Linked DNA regions of Homo sapiens: region 2 is reported to be linked to region 1. The links are microRNA targets in miRTarBase. Many come from high-throughput screens and were not tested one by one. Region 1 holds a microRNA gene; the other region holds the end of a gene's coding sequence.
Evidence for each region. The annotated mature microRNA hsa-miR-3690 reads ACCUGGACCCAGCGUAGACAAAG and lies in region 1 at 2,209-2,231, shown strand. An mRNA with a match to its seed (bases 2 to 7 or 8) in the 3' UTR can be bound and repressed. Matches are read on the target gene's strand: a 7mer-m8 pairs with bases 2 to 8, a 7mer-A1 pairs with bases 2 to 7 and ends in A, and an 8mer does both.

Region 1 (4,000 bases):
CACTTGGACCCAGTGTAGACAGGAGGAGACCCTGTACCACCTCCACCTGGACCCAGTGTAGACAAAGAGGTGTCCCTACTCCACGTCCACCTGGATCCAGTGTAGACAGGAGGAGACTGCACCACCTCCACCTGGACCCAGTGTAGTCAAAGAGATGTCCCTACTCCACGTCCACCTGGACCCAGTGTAGACAGGAGGAGACCCTGTACCACCTCCACTTTACCCAGTGTAGACAGAAGGAGACCCTGCACCACCTCCACCTGGACCCAGTGTAGACAAAGAGGTGTCCCTACTCCACATTTACCTGGACACAGTGTAGACAGGAGGAGACTGCACCACCTCCACTTGGACCCAGTGTAGACAGGAGACCCTGCACCACCTCCACCTGGACCCAGTGTAGACAAAGAGGTGTCCCTACTCCACGTCCACCTGGACCCAGTGTAGACAGGAGGAGACTGCACCACCTCCACCTGGACCCAGTGTAGACAAAGAGGTGTCCCTACTCCACATTTACGTGGACACAGTGTAGACAGGAGGAGACCCTGCCCCACCTCTACCTGGACCCAGTGTGAAGGCGACCAGCCCTTCCACACATGTGGGTATTTCTCGTCAGGTGGGACGAGAGACTGAGAAAAGAAATAAGACACAGAGACAAAGTATAGAGAAAGAACAGTGAGCCCAGGGGACCGGCGCTCAGCATACGGAGGACCTGCACCGGTCTCTGAGTTCTCTCAGTATTTATTGCTTACTATTTTCACTATCTTGGCAAGGGGAATGTGGCAGGAGGACAGGGTGATAGTGGGGAGAAGGTCAGCAGGAAGACATATGAGCAAAGGAATCTGTGTCACAAATAAGTTCAAGGGAAGCTACTATGCCTGGATGCACACGCAGGCCAGATTTATGCTTCTCTCCACACAAACATCAGTGTAGCAAAGAGTCACAGAGCAGTATTGCCACCAGCATATCTCGCCTCCAGCCACAGGGCGGTTTTCTCCTGTCTCAGAATAGAACGAATGTACGATCGGGTTTTACACGGAGACATTCCATTCCCAGGGGCAGGCAGGAGACGGAGGGCTTCCTCTTATCTCAACCGCGAGAGGACTTCCTCCTCGGCACAGACCCTTTATGGATGTCGGGCTGGGGGACGGTCAGGTCTTTTTCCCTTCCCACGAGGCCATATCTCAGACTGTCTCAGTGGGGGGAACCCTCAGACAATACCCGGGCTCTCTCGGGCAGAGGTCCCTGCGGCTTTCCGCAGTGCATGGTGTCCCTGGTTAATAGAGAATGGAGAATGGCGATGACTTTTACCAAGCATGCTGCCTGCAAACCTATTGTTAACAAGACACAGCACATGTTTCTGTGAGCACAGTGTTGGGGCTACAGTTACAGCTTAACAGCATCTCAAGGCAAAACAGTGGTTCAACATACAGATCACAATGGAGTTTCTTACCTTCCTTTCTACATAGACACAGTAACAGTCTGATCTTTCTTTTTGTTTGTTTGTTTGTTTTTCTGAGACAGAGTCTCACTCTGTCGCCCACCCAGGCTGGAGGGCAGTGGCGGGATCTCGGCTCACTGCAACCTCCGCCTCCCGGGTTCACGCCATTCTCCTGCCTCAGCCTCCCGAGTAGCTGGGACTACAGGCACCCGCCACCACGCCCGGCTAATTTTTTTGGATTTTTAGTAGAGACGGGGTTTCACCGTGTTAGCCAGGATGGTCTCGACCTCCTGACCTCGTGATCCTCCCGCCTCGGCCTCCCAAAGTGCTGGGATTACAGGCGTGAGCCACCGCGCCCAGCCCCCTGATCTCTCTTTCTTTTCCCTACACAGAGTAGACAAAGAGGTGTCCCTACTCCACATTTACCTGGACCCAGTGTAGACAGGAGGAGACCCTGCCCCACCTCCACCTGGACCCAGCGTAGACAAAGAGGTGTTTCTACTCCATATCTACCTGGACCCAGTGTAGATGGGAGGAGACCCTGCCCCATCTCCACCTGGACCCAGTGTAGACAAAGAGGTGTCCCTAGTCCACATCCACCTGGACCGAGTGTAGACAGGAGGAGACCCTGCCCCACCTCCACCTGGACCCAGTGTAGACAGGAGAAGACTCTGCACCACCTCCACCTGGACCCAGTGTAGACAGGAGGAGACCCTGCCCCACCTCCACCTGGACCCAGTGTAGACAGGAGAAGACTCTGCCCCATCTCCACCTGGACCCAGCGTAGACAAAGAGGTGTTTCTACTCCATATCTACCTGGACCCAGTGTAGATGGGAGGAGACCCTGCCCCACCTCCACCTGGACCCAGTGTAGACAGGAGAAGACTGCACCACCTCCACCTGGACCGAGTGTAGACAGGAGGAGACCCTGCCCCACCTCTACCTGGACCCAGTGTAGACAGGAGGAGACCCTGCCCCATCTCCACCTGGACCCAGTGTAGTCAAAGAGGTGTCCCTACTCCACCTCCACCTGGACCCAGTGTAGACAGGACCTACTCCACCTCCACCTGGACCCAGTGTAGACAGGAGGAGACTCTGCACCACCTCCACCTGGACCCAGTGTAGACAGGACCTCTCGGGTTCAGGGGTGTGTCCTGCGCCCTCGTTACAGAACGATTCAACCCTCCCAGCAATGTCACCGTACGTTGCAACACGACGCACTGCCTCGTACGGTGGAAACAGCCCAGGACCTATCAGAAGCTGTCGTACCTGGACTTTCAGTACCAGCTGGACGTCCACAGAAAGGTCGGTGAGAGCTCCCCGGGGCTGGGCACCAGGAGGGAGGCGTACGGGACACGCCCGCACAGGAGCCTGGGAATCCCGGGGAAGTGGCCTGGGGGAAGGATGCGTGGGTGGTGAGCGGTGACTCTGGGGTGAACGCACTTCGGGTAGCGGAGGAAGAGGTGAAGGGTCTGTGGCCTGTGGAGCCACCTTGAAAGAGGTTGCAGGGAGGGTGGACAAGGATGATCCTGCAACCATGGAACCAGGAAGTGGACCGGGAGGTGTGGGGGACGATGCCACAAGCAAGGAGAGCCTCTGCTCCACCTCCAGCTGGACGCAGTGTAGACAGAAGGAGACCCTGCCCCATGTCTACCTGGACCCAGTGTAGATAGGAGGACACCCGACCCCACCTCCACCTACACCCAGTGTAGACAGGAGGAGACCCTGCTCCACCTCCATGGAGACCCAGTGTAGACAGGAGGAGTTCTTGTCCCACAACTACCTGGACCCAGTGTAGACAGGGAGAGAGACTGCCTCACGTCCACCTCGATCCAGTGTAGACAAGAGGAGATCTTGTCTCACAACCTCCTGGACCCAGTGTAGACAAGAAGAGACCCTGCCCCATGTCCACCTCGAGCCAGTGTAGACAAGAGGAGATCTTGTCCCACAACCACCTGGACCCAGTGTAGACAAGAAGGAGAGCCTGCTCCATGTCTACCTGGACGACAGGAGAACACCCTGCCCCAAGGCCAGTGGGACCTTTCTGGATGGGTTACAGGAAGATATCTGGCCAGGAAGACTTCTGTGTTTGCAGCTCCTCATCCTACCTGTCTTGTAGATTCGGGGTTTGTGGAGGGAGACCTGCCTGCCACTCCGCAGGGACTCCTTCCCATTCGGTGCCCACACCAGGGGAGACACTGTGTGAACCATCTACAGTGTTTTAGAAATGGAAACAGTGAGCCTTGTGTTGTGTTTTGTTTTGTTTCTAGAATACCCAGCCTGGCACGGAAAACCTACTGGTAAGTGAAACCACAGACCCTACTGACAACCCTCAGCGTAACCCTACGGTCCCCTACTCACCACACCTAGTGTAACTCTACAGTCCCCTACTCATGACCCCTACAGTCCCCTACCGACGACCTCCAGCGTAACCCTACGGTCCCCTACTCACCACACCTAGTGTAACTCTACAGTCCCCTACTCATGACCCCTACAGTCCCCTACTGACGACCTCCAGCGTAACCCTACAGTCCCCTACTCACCACACCTAGTGTAAGGAGG
Region 2 (4,000 bases), not on the chromosome of region 1:
TTCTAGGATGAGAAAAATGTTTTATATTTTGACTGGTGGTGGTTGTACAGGTGTAAACATGTGACAAGACTCATCAGATGGTACACTTAGATGGATGCATTTCTTTTTATGCAAACTTTACCTCATTAATGTTGATTAGAAAAAAAGGTAAGCAGCCTCCCTGGTCATCTATTACATTGTTATATTTTCTCTTCTCCATGGCACTTATCAGTATATAAAATTATTTCATTCACTTTTTATATGTCTATTGGCCAACCCCTCCCTCCGTTAGAATGTAAACTCTTTGAGGGCAAGGACTCTGTCTTATACCCCACTATAACTCTAGAATCTGGAACCACATTTAGCACATAGTAGGAGCCTGATAAATTCTTCTTGACAGACTGACTAATGATTAAAGTCCATCAATGGTTCTACCTCCAAATTATATATTGACTTCATCTATTAGCATCATTTCTGCTAACACCATTTCAGCTTAGGGCACTATCATCTCTTGCCTGGATTATGCAATGGCCTCCTTTCTTCCACCATTGCTTCTTCATTTCAGTCTCCACAGAGCCCCCCAGTGATCTTTTAAAAATATAGATCAGATCACATTACTCCCCTACTTTAAAAATGGAGATAAAAATGATTAAGAAGCTGAATAAATGAACAAGAAAAGGCAATTCAAAACTCCAGGAAAATACAAAAGTTATATAAGAAAGGTGATGGTTCTAATATGAAATCAACCAAAATGTAACTCTGGAGCATATATGAATCTCAGCTCATAAGTTCAAAAAATACCTCAGCTATTAATGATGAGGTGGAGAGATGGCCCTCAGACCAAAAAATTAAGTCTTCTATCTTCTAAAGGTTACCACTTTAGTGTCTGCTGTTCCAGTCTACATGCCCTTTATATCTAGCAAATTTCTACTACCTTCCTGCCATGGTGGGACACATGAGTCTCCTGTGAGGTCATCTGAAGTCGAATCTGCCTAAACATACAATGTAGCTGTGACTCTCTTGAGTCTTGTCACCTCCCCATGGTGTGCCCCCAAGGTGCTCTAGAAAGTGGGCCCTGGTCCCTCCTGTCCTGGGAACCCCAAACATCAACTTCTTATCTCATCAGAGTGAATCTCTTTGTCATAGGGGAAAGTCTCTTTTTCTCTGAGTCATTTGGTACACCCATAAGTCACATTCTGTTTTACTTCTTTCCCACAACTCTATAATTTTTCTAAATATATCAGGGTTGGGGGAAACTAAAGCTGGAAAAAGTGCAGGAAATTTATGTGTTTTATCCCATCAAACATCTCACCCTAGGTAAAGAAGTACCAAATTGGCTATCTATTTGAATGGAAGAAGGGGAAATAAAAAAAAACAGGGAGGAATGAAAAAGTGTAAATTATTATCTCAAAATATTACCTAGCCAGTTTCCCCTTAGTAAATTTTTGTGTCTTCAGAAAATTTATTTTTGACCTTTGTTCAACCCTCTCAACAGCATAATGTCTGAGTTTTGCATTTTCCAAGGTAGTAGACATTGTGACTGATTTCCCAACATCCCATCTGTCCCGTGATTAATCTAAGCAATTCATGGCAATTTACCTCTTTGCCAGGGGTGGACAAGCCTAAACCAATTTGGGCCAATGAGATTCAAGGAGACACATGATGAGGGCTCTAAGAAAGAAACTTCTTCAATGTTGAATGCTGTGGAAAGGCAGGCTCTTTCTTCTTCTCTAAGTTGTGAATGAGGAAATGTAGAGTTCCCTTTGCCTGGCAGTCACACCACAGCAACAAAGGGTAAAGATAAAACTGTGGGCAGCGGAGCAAAGAAGTAGAAAGAGCCTACAGCCTCAATGCCATCATTCAGCCACTGGGCCCTGCCCTCACTCTTCATTGTCTAAGCCAGTGTGAGTTGGTTTTTCTGTTACTTGTTGAATGCATTCTATCTGATTTAGAATTTGGTGCCAGGAATAGAAGTGCTGCAAACAACAAACTGTAGTGAGTTGCACAGTAGCTCCCTAAAGATATATCTATAAGCTAACCCCTGGAACCCGTGAGTGTTACCTTATTTGGAGTCTTTGCAGATGTACCTGGATTATATTTTATTATTTTCAGATGTTGAAGAGACCCAAATTAAAGATATTTTAGTTAAAAAAATCACATTTGACCTTTATTACATGACCATTTATCAAGATAAAAAAAAAAGTCTCTTCCACAGAACTTCATATGACCCAGGAGTTTAAGTCTTTTTTTAAAAAAAATTAGTTCAATGACTTATTTGACAGTGTTACTAATTTGAGAAATTGATTTTCCTATAACTGAAAAATAATCCTGGTCTGGGAGTCTGAATGCCTCATTTCTATCCTTGTCTTAGTTACTAAACTGGGGGCTTGGGTAGGTCACTTCCCCCTCTGAGTGTTAAGTTACTTATTCTATGGAATTATTGGTGGCTCCAAGTTGCTCGGGTGCATCAGAATCATATAGGTCCTTGTTATAAACACATATTTCTGGACCTTATCTCAGTCCTACTGAATCAGATTTTCTAATATTGGCACAGGAGTCTGTATTTTTTAATTGACTGGGTGATACAAGGTACAGCCAAGCTTGTGAAGTATTGGATGAAGACCTCCAGGGTCCTTCATAGCTCTAAAAATTTGTATTCTGATTTCTATTCCTTCTATCGCTGTTTGTCCTAACTCAGCTACTAGATATTGTGCTAAAACAAAGCAAAGCAAAACACAAAATAAACAATAAAAAACCAAGACCATGATTTAATCATCTTTATATTCCCCCAGCACCTACAAAGTGCCCGGTAGGTAGTAGGCACTCAATAAATATTTGAAAAATTAATGGTGATTAAATAAATGAATGTTATTTCATGTGGATCCCAATAACCTATAGATAGAAGAATCTAAAAAGAAAGAAAATATTTTAAACTTTTGTCTGATTTAATCTTGCACTCCCTATCTGCCCTACCGCATACTTCAGTAATGGGTTATGTGAATGAAGTTATGCATATTGAGGGACCCATTAGGAAGGTGGTTAGATTCTCCTGGAGGCAAGATTATCCCACAGTATTTCTCAGTGGCAGTGATAACTGAAAGGGGCTCATGATTCCACAGGAGCTGGTTTTCTTCTCCATGACTTTTCCAGGACCAGAAAAAGCTGTATCCTGATTGGGTGACAGACGTCCTTGGAGCTATTGCTGCAGATCGCTGAACCTGCAAAGACCACCTCAGGTTTCTGTGGGGTCCCAGAGGGTGGGAAGAGGCATTCACCTTCTGTTAGAAGTTACTGGTAAATTCGACAGCAGTGGGTGTCAGCTGAGCCAAGCTTCCTTTGCAGCCAATGCCCCCAGGATAACCGATACCACCTTTTGTGACCCCACGGTCCTTCCTTCCTCCCCCACTTCTAGGCTCCACTGACCCATTGATCCTCCCCAGTTTAGACACTGTCCGCTGGCCTTGGAAGGTACCGGCTTAGGATGAAATCTGTCACAGGGGTGGGCAACTTAGCCAGAGGGATGTAGAGGAGTTTGGCATCCAGGCCAGGGTTGTAGCGGATGCGAGGGCTCCGGGAAACAATAGCATGCTCCATGCTGTTGATGACATCTCTGACTCTGGGCTCTGCCACCTGCATTATGTTTTTTAACTTGTCAGTATCTGTTTGAGGGCAGAGAGGGGAAAAAGGCTCTGTTATTCTTCATAAAAGATGGCTTCTTCCGAATTCCATCCAAGTTCCCTTTCCATCAGATCCCTGATCTAACATTTCAGGCAGGTCCGCCACACCCTCCAGGTGGTCCCTTATACAAACACACATTTATAAGACTATTATAAATAATCTTAGCCTGGCCAACATGGTGAAACCCCATCTCTACTAAAAATATAAAAATCAGCTGGGCTTGGTGGCACATGCCTGTAATCCCAGCTACTCGGGAGGCTGAGGTATGGGAACCACTTGAACCCAGGAGGCTGAGGTTTCAGTAAGCCGAGGTCACACCACTGCACTCCAGCCTGGGAAACAG

Region 2: the mRNA of SDR9C7 is a reported target of hsa-miR-3690. Seed matches in the 3' UTR shown: 7mer-A1 at 3,027-3,033.

Annotation. Positions count from the first base shown.
Region 1 is chrX:1,291,719-1,295,718 of GRCh38, forward strand. MIR3690 (microRNA 3690) reads left to right here and starts at 2,200; the gene lies at 2,200-2,274. It overlaps CSF2RA (colony stimulating factor 2 receptor subunit alpha), which reads left to right. Exons shown (of 13, transcript NM_172245.4): 8 at 2,610-2,743; 9 at 3,709-3,738. It overlaps LOC124905238 (a long non-coding RNA gene), which reads right to left and starts at 2,280. Exons shown (of 3, transcript XR_007068370.1): 1 at 2,211-2,280; 2 at 2,125-2,167; 3 at 1,828-1,864.
Region 2 is chr12:56,920,413-56,924,412 of GRCh38, forward strand. SDR9C7 (short chain dehydrogenase/reductase family 9C member 7) reads right to left here. Exons shown (of 4, transcript NM_148897.3): 4 at 2,721-3,638. The coding sequence ends at 3,421. Among named protein-coding and RNA genes, the nearest start is that of SDR9C7, 12 kb to the right of the region's middle.